Linked DNA regions of Homo sapiens. The protein of the gene in region 1 purifies or fractionates together with the protein of each later gene. This does not show direct contact. Each region holds a gene or a part of one and is shown on either strand. Other genes may lie near its edges.

What was found.
Region 2: the proteins of KLK2 (region 1) and AARS2 purify together in Homo sapiens (co-immunoprecipitation; one large-scale study listed by IntAct). This does not show direct contact.
Region 3: the proteins of KLK2 (region 1) and HDHD5 purify together in Homo sapiens (co-immunoprecipitation; one large-scale study listed by IntAct). This does not show direct contact.
Region 4: the proteins of KLK2 (region 1) and SAMHD1 purify together in Homo sapiens (co-immunoprecipitation; one large-scale study listed by IntAct). This does not show direct contact.
Region 5: the proteins of KLK2 (region 1) and PCSK9 purify together in Homo sapiens (affinity purification with mass spectrometry; one large-scale study listed by BioGRID and IntAct). This does not show direct contact.
Region 6: the proteins of KLK2 (region 1) and ERGIC1 purify together in Homo sapiens (affinity purification with mass spectrometry; one large-scale study listed by BioGRID and IntAct). This does not show direct contact.
Region 7: the proteins of KLK2 (region 1) and INTS9 purify together in Homo sapiens (co-immunoprecipitation; one large-scale study listed by IntAct). This does not show direct contact.

The regions. Positions count from the first base shown.
Region 1 is NC_000019.10:50,878,753-50,881,067, forward strand, and holds the end of KLK2 (kallikrein-2 isoform 1 preproprotein), read left to right. Parts: 3' UTR 1-1,815; downstream 1,816-2,315. UniProt on the Homo sapiens protein: Glandular kallikreins cleave Met-Lys and Arg-Ser bonds in kininogen to release Lys-bradykinin.
Region 2 is NC_000006.12:44,306,848-44,310,347, forward strand, and holds part of AARS2 (alanine--tRNA ligase, mitochondrial), read right to left. Parts: coding exon 3,452-3,500; intron 595-3,451; exon of another isoform or gene 548-594; coding exon 402-547; exon of another isoform or gene 387-401; intron 229-386; exon of another isoform or gene 185-228; coding exon 76-184; intron 1-75. UniProt on the Homo sapiens protein: Catalyzes the attachment of alanine to tRNA(Ala) in a two-step reaction: alanine is first activated by ATP to form Ala-AMP and then transferred to the acceptor end of tRNA(Ala). Also edits incorrectly charged tRNA(Ala) via its editing domain.
Region 3 is NC_000022.11:17,145,778-17,149,277, reverse strand, and holds part of HDHD5 (haloacid dehalogenase-like hydrolase domain-containing 5 isoform 2 precursor), read left to right. Parts: intron 1-717; coding exon 718-830; intron 831-3,500.
Region 4 is NC_000020.11:36,941,709-36,945,208, reverse strand, and holds part of SAMHD1 (deoxynucleoside triphosphate triphosphohydrolase SAMHD1), read left to right. Parts: intron 1-3,500.
Region 5 is NC_000001.11:55,046,048-55,049,547, forward strand, and holds part of PCSK9 (proprotein convertase subtilisin/kexin type 9 isoform 1 preproprotein), read left to right. Parts: intron 1-475; coding exon 476-599; intron 600-3,500.
Region 6 is NC_000005.10:172,921,251-172,924,750, forward strand, and holds part of ERGIC1 (endoplasmic reticulum-Golgi intermediate compartment protein 1), read left to right. Parts: exon of another isoform or gene 1-276; coding exon of another isoform or gene 277-375; exon of another isoform or gene 376-837; coding exon of another isoform or gene 838-853; exon of another isoform or gene 854-1,052; intron 1,053-2,754; coding exon 2,755-2,859; intron 2,860-3,500. UniProt on the Homo sapiens protein: Possible role in transport between endoplasmic reticulum and Golgi.
Region 7 is NC_000008.11:28,767,970-28,771,469, reverse strand, and holds part of INTS9 (integrator complex subunit 9), read left to right. Parts: intron 1-389; coding exon 390-488; intron 489-1,443; coding exon 1,444-1,581; intron 1,582-1,722; coding exon of another isoform or gene 1,723-1,863; exon of another isoform or gene 1,864-3,093; coding exon of another isoform or gene 3,094-3,147; coding exon 3,148-3,324; 3' UTR 3,325-3,500. UniProt on the Homo sapiens protein: Component of the integrator complex, a multiprotein complex that terminates RNA polymerase II (Pol II) transcription in the promoter-proximal region of genes.

The DNA.
Region 1 (2,315 bases):
GTGTATGCCAATGTTTCTGAAATGGGTATAATTTCGTCCTCTCCTTCGGAACACTGGCTGTCTCTGAAGACTTCTCGCTCAGTTTCAGTGAGGACACACACAAAGACGTGGGTGACCATGTTGTTTGTGGGGTGCAGAGATGGGAGGGGTGGGGCCCACCCTGGAAGAGTGGACAGTGACACAAGGTGGACACTCTCTACAGATCACTGAGGATAAGCTGGAGCCACAATGCATGAGGCACACACACAGCAAGGATGACGCTGTAAACATAGCCCACGCTGTCCTGGGGGCACTGGGAAGCCTAGATAAGGCCGTGAGCAGAAAGAAGGGGAGGATCCTCCTATGTTGTTGAAGGAGGGACTAGGGGGAGAAACTGAAAGCTGATTAATTACAGGAGGTTTGTTCAGGTCCCCCAAACCACCGTCAGATTTGATGATTTCCTAGCAGGACTTACAGAAATAAAGAGCTATCATGCTGTGGTTTATTATGGTTTGTTACATTGATAGGATACATACTGAAATCAGCAAACAAAACAGATGTATAGATTAGAGTGTGGAGAAAACAGAGGAAAACTTGCAGTTACGAAGACTGGCAACTTGGCTTTACTAAGTTTTCAGACTGGCAGGAAGTCAAACCTATTAGGCTGAGGACCTTGTGGAGTGTAGCTGATCCAGCTGATAGAGGAACTAGCCAGGTGGGGGCCTTTCCCTTTGGATGGGGGGCATATCTGACAGTTATTCTCTCCAAGTGGAGACTTACGGACAGCATATAATTCTCCCTGCAAGGATGTATGATAATATGTACAAAGTAATTCCAACTGAGGAAGCTCACCTGATCCTTAGTGTCCAGGGTTTTTACTGGGGGTCTGTAGGACGAGTATGGAGTACTTGAATAATTGACCTGAAGTCCTCAGACCTGAGGTTCCCTAGAGTTCAAACAGATACAGCATGGTCCAGAGTCCCAGATGTACAAAAACAGGGATTCATCACAAATCCCATCTTTAGCATGAAGGGTCTGGCATGGCCCAAGGCCCCAAGTATATCAAGGCACTTGGGCAGAACATGCCAAGGAATCAAATGTCATCTCCCAGGAGTTATTCAAGGGTGAGCCCTTTACTTGGGATGTACAGGCTTTGAGCAGTGCAGGGCTGCTGAGTCAACCTTTTATTGTACAGGGGATGAGGGAAAGGGAGAGGATGAGGAAGCCCCCCTGGGGATTTGGTTTGGTCTTGTGATCAGGTGGTCTATGGGGCTATCCCTACAAAGAAGAATCCAGAAATAGGGGCACATTGAGGAATGATACTGAGCCCAAAGAGCATTCAATCATTGTTTTATTTGCCTTCTTTTCACACCATTGGTGAGGGAGGGATTACCACCCTGGGGTTATGAAGATGGTTGAACACCCCACACATAGCACCGGAGATATGAGATCAACAGTTTCTTAGCCATAGAGATTCACAGCCCAGAGCAGGAGGACGCTGCACACCATGCAGGATGACATGGGGGATGCGCTCGGGATTGGTGTGAAGAAGCAAGGACTGTTAGAGGCAGGCTTTATAGTAACAAGACGGTGGGGCAAACTCTGATTTCCGTGGGGGAATGTCATGGTCTTGCTTTACTAAGTTTTGAGACTGGCAGGTAGTGAAACTCATTAGGCTGAGAACCTTGTGGAATGCAGCTGACCCAGCTGATAGAGGAAGTAGCCAGGTGGGAGCCTTTCCCAGTGGGTGTGGGACATATCTGGCAAGATTTTGTGGCACTCCTGGTTACAGATACTGGGGCAGCAAATAAAACTGAATCTTGTTTTCAGACCTTATACTGTGTAATTGTAAGTGGACATTTAGTAATGTACAGGGGGTCAGGGAAAGACGGGGGATAGTGAATGCACCTGTGGGACTGGTTTGGTTTTGTGATTGAGTAACCCATGGAGTTATCTCTGCAATGATGAATTGTTTGAAAGAAACCTGATTGATTTTATACTGAATTAGAAGTTAATAAGCATGCTGAAAAATAAGAGAACATATTAGGAATATTGAGCAAGACTAACATACATAAAATATGAGAAAAAGGTAGGAAATATTAGGTGGGAAAAATATGATAATTGGAAAAAGTAAAAAAAATGGATTAATAGAATTGAGTAGAGGTGAAGAACGCAATAGTGACATTTTAGACTAGATTGAAGAAAAATGTCAAAGAAATACTGAATGATGTGAGTGCTGGCAGTGCAGATACTGAACACTAAAGACTCAGGAAGAGAGAAAAATAGGAAAGGAGGAAACACATGACTAAACACTGAAGGCAGGTTTTTTTTTTTTT
Region 2 (3,500 bases), on another chromosome or scaffold:
CACTGTCTAGGCTCAGTGGTAGGCTCCCCAAAGTGCCCAGGGAGGCCCAGAGTGAAAAAGAAGCTCTGTCCTTACCAGTGTCTCCACCACTACAGGTACCAGGCTGCCTAGGAAGCCAGGTGGTGCCTTTAAGATCTCCATGGAGAAACGCACAGCTCGACGCAGGATCCGACGAAGAACCAGCCTAAAGGGGTTCAGAGCCCAGACATGAATCCCCAGCGGCTCATGGTCAGCAATATGGGGAGTGGGAAGGACGAGGTCCAGTGTGTGCTCCCACCTCAAAGCTCTCCCTCTCCCCATTCCTCCTACTGGCTCAACCAGACCCACCTCTCCTGTTCCCTCCCTCCTCCACCTGAGACCCCCAGCAGCCCCTGTCCTCTCTGTAGCCCTTCCAGACTCACGGGGGACCTGACATCCCAGGGAAGATGCCATCAGAGATGCAGACACTGAGTGTGCGGATGTGGTCAGCCACCACGCGGTACGCTGTGTCTGTGCGCCCCTCGTCTGCCACCCCTACTCGGCCCAAGTAAGGGGGTGCCCTGCAGCCCTGGGAAGCAGAAGAGTCAGCCAGTGGCCCTGCCTGACCTGGCCCAGGTGGGTGCTCTTTATCGCCTCTAGAGCATCTGCCCTCAGCCCTAAAGCCAACCACATCCAGAATGGCCTTGCCAGTCCAGTCCTGGGCTGAGAAGCCTCACAGATGAGCACAAGCCAGGCCCTGCCCTCACGGGGCTCATATTTGGTGCTACAAGTGAACATATCTGTGACCATTTACTGAATTTCTACTATCAGAACTGGGTGAGTACTTGAACAACATGGCCTCGAATCCCCAAAACAGCCCATTCCAGGAGGTATTAGCATGCTTGCTTTAAAGAAGAAGAAGCTGAGGCTCAGAGGAACTCAGTGACACAAGGCTACCCAGCTCTCAAGGAGCAGATCTGAGATCTCAGCCGGGCCTGTTGGACTCCAGGTGCTCTCCACTACCTGTTCTTGCCTCTCCCATCTTTTGTGGGGGTGGGCAGGGAGGGAGAGTGTAAGCTACATACACGGAAATGCTCCAAAGCAGGGAGCTTGATTCACTTACCACCAAACCTCTCTCTTCCCCAAGCTTCTTCGTCTAACAGTCATGCCATTCACTGTGTTGCTCAAGTCAATAGCCTGGGAGCCATCTTTGAATTCTTTTTCCCCTACCCGTCATGATCCATCAGTGGTTCCTTTTGCTCCTACCTCCATGACATCTCTCAAATCAATCTACTTGTCTCTACTTCCACTGCTATTATCCGAAGCATGCCCTGTGGTCCTTGCCTGGACCGATAATAGCCTCCCAACTGATTCCTAAGTTTCTGCTCTCATCTCCCTCCAGCTCATCCTCCACACAGCAACAGGAGTAGCCTTTTAAAAGTGTACATCAGGCTGGGCGCGGTGGCTCACACCTGTAATCTCAACACTTTGGGAGGCTGAGGCGGGTGGATCACCTGAGGTCAGGAGTTTGAGACCAGCCTGGCCAATCCTGGTGAAACCCCATCTGTACTAAAAATACAAAAATTAGTCAGGTGTGTTGGCGGGTGCCTGTAATCCCAGCTACTCTGGAGGCTGAGGCACGAGAATTGCTTGAGCCCCGGAGGCAGAGGTTGCAGTGAGCCGAGATCATGCCACTGCACTCCAGCCTGGACAACAGAGCAAGCAAGACTCTGTCTCAAAAAAAAAAAAGAAGGGTTCTCAGTGGGGAGTGTGGCATGATCTGATGTACACTTTTATTTATTTATTTTTTTTGAGATGAACTCTCACTCTGTTGCCCAGGTTAGAGTGCAGTAGCACGATCTCAGCTTACTGCAACCTCCACCTCCTGGGTTCAAGAGATTCTCCTGCCTCAGCCTCCCAAGTGGCTGGGACTACAGGTGTGTGCCACCATGCCTGGCTGATTTTTCTATTTTTTTAGTAGAGACAGGATTTTGCCATGTTGGCCAGGCTGGTCTCCAACTCCTGACCTCAAGCGATCCGCCCCCCTCTGCCTCCCCAAGTGCTGGGATTACAGGAGTGAGCCACCGTGCCCAGCCCTGAGAACTCTTCTCACCACTCTGAGAATCAAGGCCCCACTTTGGACTTTGAGGCCCACAAGACTGGATTCTGCCTTCTTCTCTGTGAGACTGTTCACAAAAATGGCCCTTTCCTAGGCATATGCCACTTTAAAATGGGACTTTACAGCTGTTTCCCATCAAGGGACAGAATCCATTTCTCCATCCCCTGAATCTCTGCTGGCTTTGTGACTTGCTTTGGCCCATAGAATACAGTGGAAACAACACTGTTCTGAGCCTATGTGTCTGCTCTCTGTCTTGGAACCTTGCTGAGCTGTGATGTGGACAAGCCCAGACTAGCCAGCTAGGTGATGACAGACACATGGTCCAGTCACCCCTACTGCCCCCAAACTGACAGCCAGCCAAGCCCCAGAGGAGCTGCGGCCTCTCAGCTCACCACAGATGGATGAATGAGCTCACACAAGACCAAAGAATGAGCCAGCTAAGCCCAGCCTAAACGCTAGCTCACAGACTCAGGGGGCAGATACATGGTTGTTGGTTAAGCCACAGAGCATTAGGGTGGTTATACAGCAAAAGCCAACTGACACATGTTCCTACTATATCCCATGGGATTCTCCTTTAGCTGGCTGGCCACCTTTTAGTTTTTGGCACATGTCAAGCCCTTTCTTGCGGGGCAAGGAGGGAGGGTATAAGCTACACACATGTGGAAATGCTCCAAAGCAGGGAGCTTGATTCACCTAGCTCCAAACCTCTCTCTTCCCCAAGCTTCTTCATCTCAGTAAACAGTCATGCCATTCACTGTGTTGCTCAAGCCAATAGCCTGGGAGCCATCTTTGATTTCTCTTTCCCCTCCCCATCTAATCCATCAGTACCAAGGCCCTTGGTACCTGCTGTCCCCTCTGCCTGGAAAGAACTTCCTGTAGCTGACTCCTCCTTTGGGGCTCAGCTCAAAGGTCATCTTCTTGGTGAGCCTTCCCCAAGCACCTTATCTAAGATTCCTCTGTACCCCTCCTTCTTCCTAGTTACTTTCACCCATGTTTACTGCCTGTTCACAATCTGTAAGCTATTACCTTGTTCTTTAACACATTTATTGATTGTCTATCTCTCATGCTAGCATATAATCTCCATGATCTCTTTCCTGCTTACTGCTGTGTCTTCTGTACCAAACACAAAGGATTTAACATAAAGTAAGCACTCAACACGTATTTTCTAAATAAATGAAAGAGGCAAGGAGTTAGGAGGAACATCAGGTAATAAGTAATGAATCCTAGTGTCTTGCTTGACGTCTTGGAATTCTTGGTTGGTTATTGTCCTCAGATGCTGAGAACACTCTGAGTTCTCAACAAAGATGGAATGCAATGGGGCTGAGGGCTGTGAAGAGCAGGTTAGAGGGCTTCTGGAAGGGAAGAGGCACTCACCTGCTGTATGGCGTTGAGCAGCGGGGAAAAGAGGTCAGTGTCATAGGTG
Region 3 (3,500 bases), on another chromosome or scaffold:
ATAGCAGGTGTGGCTCTGGCGTCACACCTTGGCTTTCCTGGGTATGATGTGTGCACCTGAAGGAGTGCTGTCCTCCTCAGCCACCTGCAGCCCTGCACCATATCCCAACTTTGATGCATTCTTGTTTGTTGAGGGTGAATTCAGCTTTTGGAAAGAGTCCTTTGGAACCAGGAGAGTAAATAAAATAGCTGATTGATTAGATGATGCTGCTCAAAGTTGCATGTAAAATGTGACGGAATCAAATTGGTTCCTTGCTGTGATTTCCAGAGAGAATTCCAAAAACCTTCCAAGTAAAGGCTGCATTGTTAGGGTTAGTATAAATGTTAAGCAGCTAACTCTTAGCAGGAATGAAAATAGAAAGTAAAAGACCAGTTTCTGCGACAGTGACAGGGAGCACACATGAACCCTATGGCTTCCAAGTGGGGGCTTGGGAAATCCAAACTGAACCTGACGGGGTAGCGGTGGCAAGTGGTCAGAACCCACATCTGTGGCATTTCTGGTCTCTTGTGTGGCAAGAACTAAATGAGACAGGTTCTTCTCAGATCTGTTTGGGTGCCTTTCAGAAGTGCTGCTGGGTGCTAGAAAGGGCTTTCCTCCCCGTTCTTTTTCTGAGCGGGTTTTTTCCTTCCCTAGGCTAAAGGACCTGCCACCTGTCTCATTATTTCCCTCAACAGTTCTGTCTTCCTCTGCCCTCCCCTGTCTTGGCTGTCCCTACAGGTGGATGCAGACCAAGTTATCCTCTCTCACAGCCCCATGAAGCTCTTCTCCGAGTACCATGAGAAGCGGATGCTGGTGTCTGGACAGGGGCCCGTGATGGAAAATGCCCAGGGGTATCCTTTTGGTCTTAACTCTGGCTGAAGGGAAGGGGCAGGGCTGAGGTGTTTCCTCCCTTAGCTGAGTGGGGACTGTAGTGAGGAGTGCTGGGTGCTGGGGTACACAGGCGATGTTGTGGGCTCAGGGGAGGGAGGACAGCTCCCGACTGTGGTCAGTCCTCATGTCTGGTGGTTTCCAAAAGCCAGTTCTCATACCCCTGCATCAGAATCCTCTGGGGAGCTTAAAATACAGATCCCAGGGTATCTGCGCTGGAGCCTTAATTCACTAGGTCTCGGGTAAAACTCAGGAATCTGTATTTTTTAAAAAACAAAACACCTCTCTTAGTGGTTCTGTAACTGGGTTTGGGAACCCCTGCTCTAGCCTCTTCCTTGGGGTGCCCAGTCAGTTTATTAGCCAGTGGTAGTGAAGCAGCTACCGGGAGCCTGTCTCTGGGAGCCTGCGGAATAATACCTGGCCCGTTTTAAGCAACTGTTGTGCTGAGCACGTCCTGTGTACCAGCGGTCTGCCGCACACTCTGAATGGGACGAGGACCAGGATGAGGGCGTAGGACTTATGAATCAATCAAGGGCTTGTGCTGGAGGCAAGAATAACACCATGAGCAGTAAAGGAGCGTGTGCGATGGCGTGTGATCGAAGGCCGGTAAGCTCACAGGAGGGCGTCACAGGTGTGGGGCGTGTGTGATGGCGTGTGATCGAAGGCCGGTAAGCTCACAGGAGGGCGCCACAGGTGTGGAGCGTGTGCGATGGCATGTGATCGAAGGCCTGTGAGCTCACAGGAGTGTGCCACAGGTGTGGGGCGTGTGCGATGGCGTGTGATTGAAGGCCGGTAAGCTCACAGGAGGGCGCCACAGGTGTGGGGCGTGTGCGATGGCGTGTGATCGAAGGCCGGTAAGCTCACAGGAGTGTGCCACAGGTGTGGGGCGTGTGCGATGGCGTGTGATCGAAGGCCGGTAAGCTCACAGGAGTGTGCCACAGGTGTGGAGCGTGTGCGATGGCATGTGAAGGCCGGTAAGCTCACAGGAGGGCGTCGCAGGTGTGGGGCGTGTGCGATGGCATGTGATCGAAGGCCGGTAAGCTCACAGGAGTGCGCCACAGGTGTGGGGCGTGTGCGATGGCGTGTGATCGAAGGCCTGTAAGCTCACAGGAGTGCGTCACAGGTGTGGGGCGTGTGCGATGGCGTGTGATCGAAGGCCGGTAAGCTCACAGGAGGGCGTCACAGGTGTGGGGCGTGTGCGATGGCGTGTGATCGAAGGCCGGTAAGCTCACAGGAGGGCGTCACAGGTGTGGGGCGTGTGCGATGGCGTGTGATCGAAGGCCGGTAAGCTCACAGGAGGGCGTCACAGGTGTGGGGCGTGTGCGATGACGTGTGATCGAAGGCCGGTAAGCTCACAGGAGGGCGTCACAGGTGTGGGGCGTGTGCGATGGCGTGTGATCGAATGCCGGTAAGCTCACAGGAGGGCGTCACAGGTGTGGGGCGTGTGCGATGGCGTGTGATCGAAGGCCGGTAAGCTCACAGGAGGGCGTCACAGGTGTGGGGCGTGTGCGATGGCGTGTGATCGAAGGCCGGTAAGCTCACAGGAGGGCGTCACAGGTGTGGGGCGTGTGCGATGGCGTGTGATCGAAGGCCGGTAAGCTCACAGGAGGGCGTCACAGGTGTGGGGCGTGTGCGATGACGTGTGATTGAAGGCCGGTAAGCTCACAGGAGGGCGTCACAGGTGTGGGGCGTGTGCGATGATGTGTGATTGAAGGCCGGTAAGCTCACAGGAGGGCGTCACAGGTGTGGGGCGTGTGCGATGACGTGTGATCGAAGGCCTGTAAGCTCACAGGAGTGTGCCACAGGTGTGGAGCGTGTGCGATGGCGTGTGATCGAAGGCCGGTAAGCTCACAGGAGGGCGTCACAGGTGTGGGGCGTGTGCGATGACGTGTGATTGAAGGCCGGTAAGCTCACAGGAGGGCGCCACAGGTGTGGAGCGTGTGCGATGGCGTGTGATCGAAGGCCTGTAAGCTCACAGGAGTGTGCCACAGGTGTGGAGCGTGTGCGATGGCGTGTGATCGAAGGCCGGTAAGCTCACAGGAGGGCGTCACAGGTGTGGAGCGTGTGCGATGGCATGTGATTGAAGGCCGGTAAGCTCACAGGAGGGCGCCACAGGTGTGGAGGGGAGGGCTTGGAGTATCCCTGGGGCAGGAGTTGCCTGTGGCTTCTTGGAGGGGTACAGCGGAGCCCCAGGAGATGGCTAAGCTCCTAAGCAGGGGAAGTAGGAGGTTGGGAATGGGATAGGGAGAGGAAGGAAAGAACAGGAAGGGTGGTGCCAGGTTGTCGGGAACCTTGGAAGTAAACTTGAGGAGTCTGACCGACTTCTCAGGGCAGTGGAAAGCAGGGCACGCTTTATTGCTGATGGGGCAATCTGATAGAATCAGGATTTTGGGGAAATTCATTTTGAGAGTAATCAAACCATGTCCAGTTAAGATTGCAAGTTGGAATTGAGGATAGGAAAATGGAGGCAGATCTTAGAGGAGATAGGCTGAAGCTGGCTTGCCCCTCCCCAAGGCCGCCTCTTCCTTGATGATTTGGGTTCATCCTTTAAGATTTTAGCTCCAGCCCTACTTCTCCATGACTCCTCTGGACTCCCCAGCCCACTGAGGAGTCTCTTCTGAACTCAGCACTGA
Region 4 (3,500 bases), on another chromosome or scaffold:
AAAAATTAGCCGGGTACTGTGCATGCACCTGTAGTCCCACCTACACTCAGGAGGCTGAAGCAGGAAGATCCCTTGAGCCCAGGAGTTCAAGGTTGCAGTGATCTATGATAAGCTCCTGCACTCCAGCTTGGGCAGCAGAATAAGACCCTGTCTCAGATAGGTAGGTAGGTAGATAGATACATATATACATACATACATACATAGTTACATAGATCCATCTCTGTGTATGGCTGTAGGTTCTAGGGTCTAGATTAGAGTGGGGCTCCTTTAATGATCTCAGTAGAGGATCTGGTGCTTAAATACTTCTTTTTTTTGAAGCGGAGTTTTGCTTTTGTTGCCCAGGCTGGAGTGCAATGGCACGATCTCGTCTTACCTCAACCTTCACCTCCCAGGTTCAAGTGATTCTCCTGCCTCAGCCTCCCGAGTAGCTGGGATTACAGGCATGCGCCACCATGCCCAGCTAATTTTGTATTTTTAGTAGAGACGGGGTTTCTCCATGTTAGTCAGGCTGGTCTCGAACTCCCGACCTCAGGTGATCCACCCACCTCGTCCTCCCAAAGTGCTGGGATTATAGGCGCGAGCCACTGCGACCGGCCTTAAATACTTCTTAAAATGAAGATTTTGTTTCTGTTAGAAAATTGGCAACAGTGGGGAAATATGGCCTTCTCTTCTGAAATTTTAGTTACATGTTGTTTGTGGTAACAGTAACCAAAGAATCAAAACAAAGGATTATACTGAATTACTTCCTGTGCTGTTGCTTAGTAATTGATAACAGAAGTACATTGTGAAACAAGATCACTGTAGAACATTTAACTGACTTCCAGTAAATATCCTTTGGATCAGAATCTCCAGGGACCTCATCTTAGCCCTTTCTTTTTTTTTTTTTTTTTGAGACGAAGTCTCACTCTGTTGCCCAGGCTGGAGTTCAAGTTCAGTGGTGTTCAAGTGATTCTCCTGCCTCAGCCTCCTAAGTAGCTGGGACTACTGGCATGTGCCACCATGCCCGGTTAATTTTTTGTATTTTTAGTAGAGACGGGGTTTCATCGTGTTAGCCAGGATGGTCTCAATCTCCTGACCTTGTGATCTGCCCGCCTCAGGCCTCCCAAAGTTCTTTTTTTTTTTTTTTTTTTTGAGATGGAGTCTTGCTCTGTCACTCAGGCTGGAGGGCAGTGGCGTGATCTCGGCTCACTGCAACCTCCACCTCCCAGATTCAAGTGATTCTACCACCTCAGCCTCCTGAGTAGCTGGGACTACAGGTGTGTGCCACCATGCCCGGCTAATTTTTGTATTTTTAGTAGAGACAGGGTTTCACTATGTTGGCCAGGGTGGTCTTGAACTCCCGACCTCATGATCTGCCTGCCTCAGCCTCCCAAAGTGCTGGGATTACAGGCGTGAGCCACTGTCCCCGGCATGACTCTTTCATAACCACATTTCAGCCCTCTCAGTCCTCTCAAAGTCCCCTTTACTACTTGTTTCTTGTACATAATAGTTGCTTACTATTTGACCTGAATGGAATTTGTTCTAATACAGTCTTTCTTTTCAAGGGAGCCATGTGCATGTTTGTGGACCCAAGTGCTATTGATTCATTCAGTGAATATTTTTGGAAAGCTCACTATGTACTAGGAATTCTTCCATGAATTTGGGGCACATGAGTGAACAAAACAGACAAAGGAACACTATATTGCAGTGTTCCAGAAGGAACACTATATTGCACGTCTCTGTGCCCCACCTCATAACTCAAATTCTGTAGGACTCCTTAGAGCTGTATTGTTCTGTATAATAACAACTAGCTTCACGTTTAAATTAATTAGAAGTAAATTAAGTAAAAAATTCCTCAGTTACACTAGCCATATTTCAAGTACTTAGTAGTCACTATGGCTAACGGCTACTGTGTTGGACAGAGCAGATATAGAACATTTCCATCATCGCAGAAAGTTCTACTAGACAGTGCTGCCTTACAGGTTGCCAGTGGGATTAGCCCTACCCACCACTCCATCCAGTTGCTCACAGTAGTACCAATGCAATCAACTTGTTAATGGACCTTTGTACTGTTTTTACCTAATTTCCTATTTTACCCTCCCTAGACCCCCCAATCCCTGTGCCCAGAGTTCACCCCAAGATTAATTACTTGCAAGCTCTTATCCTGGACCCTGCTTTCTAGGGAGAATCCAGCTTAGACAAGCACTCCTAGTAGGCCCTCAATTTTATGAACAACCATTGATTTATAAAGGTTTTTTTAACAAGTAAGAAACAGGCCAGGCGTGGTGGCTCAGGCCTTTAATCCCAGCACTTTGGGAGGCCGAGGCGGGCGGATCACGAGGTCAGGAGATCGAGACCATCCTGGCTAACATGGTGAAACCCTGTCTCTACTAAAAATACAAAAACAAAAAAGAAATTAGCTGGGCATGGTGGCGGGCGGCTGTAGTCCCAGCTACTCGGGAGGCTGAGGCGGGAGAATGGCGTGAACCCGGGAGGTGGAGCTTGCAGTGAGCCGAGATCACGTCACTGCACTCCAGCCTGGGCAACAGAGTAAGACTCCATTTCAAAAAAAAAAAGAAGTTAGATAGAAACATTGTCACGTTAAATATACATGTCAATTGTAAGAAGCATTAAATTTCAGAAATGTTGGAACACAGGAATAAAATTCTTTCATAATCTAGATATCCTGGCCCATGACTTCTTTAAATCTTTATTTAATGCCATGTCCTTTGCTAAACAAAACAACCCCCTGGTTTTGGGTGGTTTTATATACTCTAATCAGTGATTTTGGTTTTGTTTTGTTTTGTTTTTGAGTTGGAGTTTTGCTCTTGTTGCCCAGGCTGGAGTGCAATGGCGCCATCTCGGCTCACCGCAATCTCCGCCTCCCGGGTTCAAGCAATTCTCCTGCCTCAGCCTCCCGAGTAGCTGGGATTACAGGCATGCGCCACCACCACGCCTGGCTAATTTTGTATTTTTAGAAGAGACGGGGTTTCTCCATGTTAGTCAGGCTTGTCTCGAGCTCCCAACCTCAGGTGATCCACCCACCTCGGCCTCCCAAAGTGCTGGGATTACAGGTGTGAGCCACTGCGCCCGGCCGATTTTGGGGTTTTAAGCGATGAATACCAAATGTCAGTTTAGGAAAATATTAAGTGGTCACGGGGTTAGTTTAGGTTTGATATTTTATGCTATGACTCCGGTTTTGCTCAACTATGTGACTCCCCTTAAACTAAGTCCACCTATAAGTACTTCTGAAAGCCTGGCTTTACACTGTGCTTGTTATGTCAAACTGATGAGGAGGATAGGGGAATAGGAAAACACGAAATTTGCTGCTTTAATTTATCAGCTGTAATAATGCTTCTGTGTATCCCAAGATATTATTCTTAAGTGTTCTTATTACCATGGGTTCAGTGTGTACCATAGAGGCCAATGTAGTGCCTCTGACTCCCAGTCTATGTATGACTTGTAGAAAGATACTTTTTTTTCAATCTGGTTATCTAGTAGATCAGTAAAACCCTTTGCCT
Region 5 (3,500 bases), on another chromosome or scaffold:
CCCATTGGCTGAGCCCAACTGGAAGCTTTGCAAGGGAGCTGGTGCTGCAGTTTGCACTGAGCAGGCTGGAGAAGGCTGGAGAATAGACTAGGGGACAAACCGAATTGCCAGTGCTGTTATGTCATGATTTAGGCATGGAGTCCAGGGCCTGAGCTTCACTCCATGTCCATCCTGCCCAGAGCCTTGGCACAGCCTGGCTCCCAGACAAGATGTCAAGTTCAGAATCCTTCCTAAAAGGAATCCTCTATGCCAGACCGTGTTGCAGGGATATGGGAGTGCTGGGCTCCCAGCCTGATCAAGGAGCGAGAAAACTCAGGCTCCTAGTCTGTCCTCCGGGGCACTAGCAGGGACAAGGTGGGAGGCTGCTGGGCTGGGATGTGGGGACAGGTTTGATCAGGTAAGGCCAGGCTGTGGCTGTGTTTGCTGCTGTCCAAATGGCTTAAGCAGAGTCCCCCGGCCTCTCTGGCTTCTGCAGGCCTTGAAGTTGCCCCATGTCGACTACATCGAGGAGGACTCCTCTGTCTTTGCCCAGAGCATCCCGTGGAACCTGGAGCGGATTACCCCTCCACGGTACCGGGCGGATGAATACCAGCCCCCCGGTAAGACCCCCATCTGTGCCCTGCCCCACCCCATCTGAGCTGAATCCATTTGCTCTGCCCTGGCCTGGCCTCCCTGCTGGTGGTTTCCACTTCTCGGGGGGCTTTGGGACTCAGCACCTCCACTGACCCCTTTTTTTCTGTCCCATCCCCATCCCCTGCAGCCCCCACTGCCTGCCTTCCTGTTGCCCCACAAATGCAAAAGTCTTGCCTTAAATGATCCTCTTTTCCTTCTTTTCTCTTGTTTTCCTTTTCTCACCATTTGGAATGGCCCAGCAGGCTGCACTTACCTTGGAAGGAGGGTTCATCTGATGGTGACTCTACCTAGGGCCCCCAGGCCTCTATAACTCCCAGTGCCCTGCAGACTGGACCAGATCCTTTAATGGGATAGACACAACCCTGTCTGGGATGCCTCTGCCTACCTTCCTGTTTTGCTGCTCCACCTGCCTCCAGCTCCGTTTGGCTTCCTGGGGCTCCCTGCCTGGGCCACTTTGTGTCTTCCCTCTAGGCCTTTCTTTCCACTGTTCCCTCTGCCTGGTGTGGCCTGGCTATGGAAGGGAGGGAGGAGGAGCGGCCATGGAAAACGGTCTGCATTCTAGCAGGGACTTGCAGGTGGCAATTCAGTCGGGGAAGACTCTAGATGCACCTGGCCTGAGGAGAGAATGAAGGGTTCTAGTTGGACTGTGTTAAGTTTGAGGTGCCCATGGTGTGAGGTCTGGAGCTCAGCGCAGAGATGATGCAATGTGGTGGGTCCATGCAACATGGTGCCAGGACGCAGAGCTTGGGGTGAACTCAGCTTTCACCCCTTACCGGTTCTCGTGGGATCTTGGGAAGCCACTTTCTTCTATGAGCTTTGTCGTTCTTGTCTGTAAAATGGGCACATAACCCTGTCCCTGTCCTTCTCACAGGTTGCTGTGAGACTCCAATGAGTTGAAGGATGTGCAGATGCTTTTGGAAGTGAAAAGTTGGGGGGCTACTGTGTGACTTTGCATACACCCAAACTGTGTGACCTTGCATATGTCTGAGTTGCTGCCATTGCAACAGATCAGAGCTGGTGGGCTGGGTGTGGAGAAAGGGTTTGTGTGGGGGACATCCTCTGGCAAGGGTGGCAGCAGCAGAAGTGAGGGGCCTGGTCGGTCATGTGTGCTGACCCGGCCTGGGCAGCCTGTGGCCAGGGAGAGGACAGCTCCTCTGTAGGAAGAGCCTGTTCCTTTCCAACCAGGTGAGACCTCTTCAGTGGAGCCCTGGAGCCCCCTGTACTCCACATCAGTGCCTCAGGGACCTCCCGGAGCAGGCTAATATCAGAGACCAAGAGGGACACTGGCAGAGGATCACAGAGACCCCAGTCCAGGCAGGGACTGAGAAGATCTTGCCCCCTAAGTTAGTTTCCTAGCACTGCTGTGACAAATTACCACCCCCTCGGTTGGAACAAGTTGATTCTCTGCAGTCCTGGAGGCCAGAAGCCTGAATCAGTGTCGGCAGGACCACTTTCTCCCGGGGGGCTCCAGGGAGAAGCTTCTCTTGCCTCTTCCGTGTCCCAACAGCGGCAGCACACCAATCCCAGCCTCTGTCTTCACACAGCCTTCTCTGTGTCTCTCTCCTCTTCATTGTCTCATAAGGACACTTGTCATTGGATTTAGGGCCCACTGGATCCTCCAGGATGATCTCATGTGGGGAACCTTAACCACATCTGCAAGGACCCTTTTTCCAAATAAGGTCACAGCCACAGGTTGTGGGGGTTAGGATGTGAGTGTATCTCTTTGGCAGCCACTGTTCCCTCCTCTCCCTTGGGCCAGAAGCAGACGTGGGGCCCTTTCTTCCCCATAGGATGCCCATGGATTGCCCCCCTTCCCGCTTCCCCCGAGTGTCTGTGGGAGGTGGCAGGAATGGCAGGCAGGGGTGTGGAACCCCTTCTGGAGTCATATCAAGGGCTTGGCTGGAGGAAGTCCTCCTGGAGCTGTTGGGCTGGCATGGGGCAGGCTGGCTGGGCCCAGCAGCAGCTTCTTCATTCATGGGGAGGCCACAAGCATGGGCCCTAGAGCTGGCTGCCGCCCTCAAACCCAGACCCTGCACTCTTAACTGTGTGACCTTGCATACGTCACTCACCCTCTCTGATCTTCAGGTTCCTCTGCAAAAGGGAGGTAATGATAACCCTCACTCTGGGGGGCTGTTTGGAGGGTTAAATCAGTTATTGCTGTAGCATGCATTTCTCTGTCAGGTATTGAGTGAGGTGCTGTGATTTTAGCCCTGCATTTTTCTTTTCTTACCATTCAATAATAACGTTTTGAGCACCCACTGTGCGCCAGGCACCATATTAGGTGCTGGGGATACAAATGTGAATGAAATGAATGTGGTCTCTTCCCCCAACAGTGTATCCAGAAGATTAATCCATTCCTTAAACAAATGCTACTTGACACAGATTAGTTCTGGATAGGCTGAGAGCTCTGAAGGAGTGCAGGCAGCTGCGAGCCTGTGTATCCAGCAGAAGGATCAGGAAAGGATTCCTGGAGGAAGCGCTGTTCTAGCCAAGACCTACGGGGGCATTATTAACCAGGCAAAGGGGACGGTGTCCAAGCAGTGGAATGAACGTGGATTGAAGCTGTGAGGCAGGAGGGAGTGTGGCCTGTGCAGAAGGGACCGAGGCTGGTGAGACCAGGAGGGCCTGGGTGGCCTCCAGGTCAGATGTGAAAGGAAGAACTTGGCCACAGTCTGAGCTTCTCAGGCGTATGGCAGGGCTGCCTGGTGAGAGGGAATGAGCTCCCTGCTCTGGAGGTATGCAAGCAGGACTGGGCTCTCACCTGCCAGAGGCCACAGAGCTTTCCAGAGGCTGGAAGAGGCCACTCCAAGGCCTCTTTGCCCCTGAGAGTGGTGGCTCTTCTTGAGGCCACCTTGCCACGCTGTCAC
Region 6 (3,500 bases), on another chromosome or scaffold:
AGAACTCAGAGCAACCGCTCTACTATGGGTTATTGGGTCCCTGAAGCAGGCGATGCTGTCCCTCGAGGGAGATCTTGCCACGCCTTTGTTTCTGCTCCACTCCTGACCCAGCAAGTGTCCCTTCTCCACTGTAGCCTGCAGCTCGCTCCACTGCGAGTTTGCTGAGGCCGAGGCTACAGGCTGTCAGCTTGATGCCTCCCCTGTCAGCCACAAGCTCGGGCCCTGCTGAAGTAGGAATATTCCTGCAGGAAGTCCCCAACTTTGTGTTTGAAACAGACATGCTTACAAAATCAGACTTTGATGGGCTGCTGCACGATAAGCTATATTCCCTCCTCGGACACAGCTCGCACAGTCTTCTTCATTGGGCTGGAATAAGGTAACCCCCGAGTTTTTCAGTGTGGCATCTGGGGACCTTTGATAAACAGCCCCAACTCCTCCCTTGTGCCTCTTTGTTTCCTGCTGCTGCCAGCACCGCCACCTCCGTCTCATTTGGAGTTCAATAATACCAGACTCTTAGTTCCTTAGACAGCCCACATGCTGGGAAGTTTCTGTCCTCTGCACCTGTTCATGCTGTTCCCTCTGCCCAGATGCCTTTCGCTCTCTTCCTGAGTAATGCAGACTCATCTTCAGAGCCTTAACACAGGATGTCCTTCCCCCTGGGAAGCCCTCCCTGAATACAGCCTGCACCCTCAATTGAGCCGGGGGCCTTCCCTGTAACCCCCATGGTCTGCAAATTCCTCTGGGCCAGGGTGGATCCCACAGAGTCTCATTGTCTGTTCCAAGTCTGTGTCACAGGGGCTTGGCCAAGGCCAGATTCTTGTCTGCTCATCTCCCCAGTTCCGGCATCTCCTGAAGGACTGGCGCCATGTGGCCATCAGCCCAGGCTGCGGAGGTAGATGGCATCCAGGCATCAGAGGAGGGAGCAGTGCGTCCAACAGACGTGAGCTGAGACTGCAGCTCTCGACATGTGACCTTAGCAAGTTTCTTCACTGCTCTGAGCCTCCATTTTCTTTTCTGTAAAATGGGAATTATCAGATGACAAAGTCAAAGGATTCAGTGTTGTTTGTTTAGTCATTCATTCATTCAAAAAGTGTCTATTGAGCACCTGCTATGTGTCGGAGTCTGGGGAGCACAGCAGGGCGTGGACATGCTAATGGGAGGAGGCAGACGAGAACAGGATGGGTATGAGATGGCAGGTGATCCCAGAGGCTGTAGCAGGTAAGGGGATGGGGAATGGGGGCCAGGGTGCTCTTTTGCACAGGTGGACGTGGAGGGCCTCTCTGTTGGGCCCTGAGGGTCCGAGGGAGGGCCATGTGGAAGAGGGTCCCAGGAAGGGGTGCAGGCACAAAGGCCTAAAATGGGGCCACACTGGATGCTGTTCCCGGCACGGCAGGAGACCAGACAGGAAGCAGCAGAGGACACAGCAGCAGGAGGCCAAGCGGTGGGGACACGATGCTTGGCCAGCGGCCAGATGTGGCCTGTGGGCCACCACGAGGACATGGACCTGGACTCTGAGAGAATAGAAGCCGTGGAGGGTTCTGGGCAGAGGAGTGATGAGATCTGATGTAGGGTTTAAAAAGATCTTAACAGTCATTATTGGGAAAAGGCCCAGGCTGTGGGGAACATGGAAGCTGGGAGCCCAGGGAGGAGCCTGCCATTGTTGTCCATGAAGAGACGACCTTGGACCAGGGCAGCAGAGAAGAGGTCAGGCGCCAGGTGTGTTTGGAAGGTGGAGCTAACAGGGTTTCAGCTGATGGATGGGACGTCGGGAGTGAGAAAGGGGGGTTCCAGGATCATACCAAGGGTTCTAGTCTGAGCATCTAGGAGGAGGAGGAGGAGGAGGGTTCCAGGATCATACCAAGGGTTCTAGTCTGAGCATCTGGGAGGAGGAGGAGGAGGAGGGTTCCAGGATCATACCAAGGGTTCTAGTCTGAGCATCTGGGAGGAGGAGGAGGAGGAGGGTTCCAGGATCATACCAAGGGTTCTAGTCTGAGCATCTGGGAGGAGGGAGGAGGGTTCCAGGATCATACCAAGGGTTCTAGTCTGAGCATCTGGGAGGAGGAGGAGGGTTCCAGGATCATACTAAGGGTTCTAGTCTAAGCATCTGGGAGGAGGAGGGGGAGGAGGGGGAGGAGGAGGGACTTCGTGCTGAAACAAGGAGAAGCTGCAGTGGCTCCTGCCACATGGTTGTCACCAGCATCCTTTGTTCTGTAAATACTCATCCAGCACCTCTTGCTGGCTTGGCTCTGCGAGGGCTTGAGACCCAGGGAAGAGATGAGGCTACCACAGTCTGTCCATCAGGGATCCCCCGTCTAGGGCACTGGGGCAAACTTGGGTAGGAAATGATAGGGGTTTGGAGTCTGAGGAATCCCCATTAGTCTGCAAGCTCAAAGGTCATCCCCCAGCTGACTGTGGGGTCAGCCGCCCAGAATCCACAGAGCTGGAGGGGGAGCAGCTGCCATGAGTCCTGGCTTTGTGCCCGTCGCCCAGATGGGCACTTCACATGCACCCTCTCACCAGATAGTCCTGGCAGCCCCCTCGGAAGCTATGGTAGTGCCCCCATTCTGCAGATGAGGAGCCTGAGGCCCAGAGAGATGGGGTGACTCCTTTGCACAGTTGAAAATGATACAAGCAGGATCCAAACCCAGATCTGCCTGATTCCAGTGTCCTCCCTGGATCACACAGGGTGAGGCCCCAATGTTCCGCCCCCTGGAGAAGTCAACCAAACTCCTGAAACTCACATTTCTCCCCCAGGTCCCCGGCAACTTCCACGTGTCCACACACAGTGCCACAGCCCAGCCACAGAACCCAGACATGACGCATGTCATCCACAAGCTCTCCTTTGGGGACACGCTACAGGTGAGCAGGGGACACTCGAGATGGCATGGCCGGGGGTGGGCCTTCAGGGGCTCTGTCACCCAGTGCCCTCTGCCCTCTCTGGGCACTAGGAAGAGTTACCGTTAAGGTGACATCTAAGCCAAGCCTGGAAGGGTAAGAAGGGTTTCACCAGGAACAGAACAGGGAAATGGGTCCTAGGCAGGGGGCGTCTCAAACATCACCCCTCTCCTAGAGCGCCCAGCTGGTGGTTTTCATGTGAAAGACCCTCAAGGTTACTTTCAGAAAAATGGATCAGTAAGCGTATGTGACACGGCATGTTCTGTGCCGAGATGGTCCAGGGCACAAGGGCTCGCTTGGCAGCTGAGAGGGCCCAGAGCACTTGCCTGAAATGGGAGCCGGCAGGTGGGGTGTGTGGGGTGCGAGAGACCCGTGGTAGACTGAGGAAGGTGGAGACTGAAGGTCTGGTTGGTGACTCAGAGCACCCATCTGCAATGAGGAAGATGGACCCAGGAGGCAAGACTATAGGCAGGGAGGTGAGGGAAGGGCCCAGACCGAGGCAGGTGGAGGGGAGAGGAGCAGCGGTCTCGCATTGCCACGTGCAGGGGCAAAACAGAAGGACACAGAAACTACAGTCCCAAGTTTAGTCATTAGTGGGGTGGAAA
Region 7 (3,500 bases), on another chromosome or scaffold:
TAAGGTCAGGCTGCACGGCAGGGCACCCATCAGGTGCAGGTGGTCGGAAAGATACCACCCCCCAGGTAAAGCCGTGGCTCCCACCATCAGGAGAAGTCAGACTTTCAGGAAGAGAGAGCTCCCTCAACCGCCATGCTGCTGTCCCCGTCCTTCCTGCCACTGGTCACCTGGAGAGGGGATGAGGGTGAAGTAAAGGCCAGAATGAATGAAAGGCTGCACTTGGTGTGTCACCTGGGCGACAGAGCAAGACTCCATCTCAAAAAAAAAAAAATTGTTTACCTTTAAAGTTATTTCATCTTTTTAGACTGCAGTGATGTAAATACAGATTAAAGGAAGAGTAATGGTCATCATTAAAGGCCCCCAGCCTGAACTGCGCCCTTTGCTTTCAGCTCGCAGATTCACTGGTGCCCATGGAGATCAAGCCTGGCATCTCCTTGGCAACTGTCTCGGCCGTGCTGCACACCAAAGATAACAAGCACTTGCTTCAGGTAGGGGGTGCTGGGTGGGAGTGCAGGGGACCCTCTCCCCAGCAAGAAACCAGACCACCTAACAGATTATATTTGAAATAGCGCTTCATGTGAATTCTTGTTGAAGAATTATTTCCCTGGCCATGTGCCTCAGAGAGGCTGCTGTGCCCAGAGATGAGGCCGCACGTCATCCCAAGGGCTGCCACAGGCACATTCTGTTGGGGAGCGCTGCCACGCGAGGCAGGGCTGTGGGGAGACGTGCAGGGTGGCAGGTGCAGCCCTGCCCTTGGGGGCTGGAACCGGAGGGCACCTGCGTGAGGCTGTGGCTACCTGAGAGCCTGGTCCTACCAATGACCCACACACAGGTGGGTGGCACTTCAGCTCCAGGGCAGGCACTGTGTCTTAAGAATTCCTTTCAGATCTGGACTGTGTCACCTTTATGCCACATGTAGAGTTGCTCCTAGCTACCACTTAAAGTCTATTAGACCCTGTGCTGGGTCCTTGACCCGCCTTGTCTTACTGAGCCGTCAGAATTCACTGCTGTCATCATTTCGTAGGCAGCTTCTCTAACCTTGGCCAGATGGTGGCAAAGGTGGGGTTTCCCCCTTTGGTCTGACCCCACAGCCAGTGTGCCCAGCCACGGGGTCATGATGTACCTGCAGCACGACACAGTGTATTCTGGAGAATTTACTCAGCAGATACTGAAGTGAACCACCTGAAAATTTAAAAATGGATCTTGATAGAAGGCAGAGATCTTAGCGAATAAGGTGTTGGTAGGCTGGACAGTTGAGCATTAGAGCGCGTGGATCTGGGGCTCCCGGCAGCCAGGGAACCTGAACCGAGTGCCGGCTGAGGAAACCGGGCCGGGGCTCTGTGGCCTGTGAGGACAGGATAGTCTCAGGCTCTCAGTGTGGCCTGCGGTGGCCCCTGCTGCTCAGAGGAAGCTCATGAAAGCCACTCTTTCCTTCTGCTCTAGCCCCCTCCTCGGCCCGCCCAGCCCACGAGCGGGAAGAAGAGAAAGCGGGTGAGCGATGACGTACCAGACTGCAAAGTCCTGAAGCCTTTGTTGAGCGGTTCCATCCCTGTGGAGCAGTTCGTGCAGACCCTGGAGAAGGTGAGCTGGTTTCGCTGGTGCCGTGAAAACTCCACACGTGGCAGCCTTTCCCTGGCTCACTATGGCCCCCTGGCTGCAGGGAGTGGATGTTGCTGCTTGTCACTTAGTCCCCACTGTCCTGTGGCATCTGTTTGGTCTAAGGTCCTGCTGGGAGACCCAGGAGAAAGAAAGCAGAGTGAGGAGTGCCCCATCCTTCCTCCCAGCACGAGGTCACCAGAAGGCCTCTCCAGACTGAAGAAAAAGCTGCTTCCACACACACATGTGACGAGTGGGGCAGGGTAGTGAGGCCAGGACAAAGAGGGACCCGGCCCTGCCAGAGTCTTGCACTTCCACAGATGACTCCTTGCTGTCAGAGGGGAGCCAAGTCTCCAGTCGACTGTCAGGATTTGCAGGAGGCAGTCGGGGGAGGGGACACTGGCCCTTCCCCTCTGTCTCAGCAGCCCTGATGGCTGCTTCTCCCAGAGATGAGATTTCTTGACTATGATTAAAAGAAAAAAATCTAACCTTAAAGGTTGTAATTTTGGCTTCAGTCACAGGACTTCAGAGATGACTTTATTAGGATTATAGAATCTTTGATAGGAAGAAGGAATTGGCTAAAGGTAATACTGTTCATGCTGCTGCTTGCAAGAACTGCAACAAATTACAATCATTACAAGGAAGGAGATTTCTATGAACTTTCTATCCAATGTAAATATCACAGTTGCCGACTTTCAAATCTTAAAGGCTTTCCCTTTCCTAGGATTGGTTTTCTCCACCTGTCTTTGATTTTCCCGTAGGGAAAAAGGCTCTGGCTGGGTGGTTGCGGCTCTCTTCCACCCTCCCTGAAGACCTTGCAGGGCTCCTGGGCCCTGTTAATGGGCCTCAAGCTGGACTTTTAAAAACTTAAGATGAGGACCTTCTGCCTGGCCCAGCCTATGTCCTGACCCAGTGTTCCACCCCGGCTCCTCTCTGCAGAAGGAGCAAGCACCTGTCCAAGTCCCTAGGGGAGCCTGCAGCCATGAAGTACAGGTGGCCTCCCCACACCGAGGCCCTTCACCTGCTGTGTGTCTGTTTCAGGCACATGCCTCCTTTCCATGTCACGTCTGATTTGTAAGGAATTTCTGTCCTTAGCATTAGCAATAGCTGAGAAGTTTGCACTGCTGCCTTCTCTCCTTCACTCTTGAGAGGGCTCTGCCAAGTCCCACAGGGGTATCTTGGTGTCACCTGGCATTTTCCTGGGAGCTCAGACAGCTGAAACTTAGGAGGGAGCTGTCACCAGGGAACGGCATGGTGCAAGCAGCTGAGCGTCCCAGACTCCTGAACACAGTGCTTGGACGTGCCCTCAAAGAACTCACAAAAGCTTAGCCAGGTTGTGGAAATTCTGTTGTTTTGCATGAGCTTTTGCATGTTTAGGGTCTCTTTTCAAGTATAAGAAACTATCACTATCATAGGCCTATGACTAGTCTGAAGAATTGTGTTGAGACGTGTCAGTTTCTAGAAAGTTCAGTCGAGTCTGTGAAGTGTCATTTACAGATCTCACAGATGTGCAGTCTGCCCAGCCCACCTCTTTCTTTTCTTCTGGAGCAGCATGGCTTCAGTGATATTAAGGTGGAGGACACAGCCAAGGGCCATATCGTCCTGCTCCAGGAGGCTGAGACGCTCATCCAGATTGAAGAAGACTCGACCCATATCATCTGCGACAATGACGAGATGCTCAGAGTGCGACTGCGGGACCTTGTCCTCAAATTCTTACAGAAGTTCTGAGTGGGCCATCTGAGCTACTTCCCTGAAATCCTGCAGTCCCTCACTGGCTGCCCTCACAAGCCACCTGAGGAGTGGCATGAGAGGCCATTAACTGTGTCTTTGTGGTGTCCTCTGGCTTAAGGAGTGAAGAGGTGGCTCTTGAGGGAAATGGTCTGGACTTATTCCCAGCACTGTTT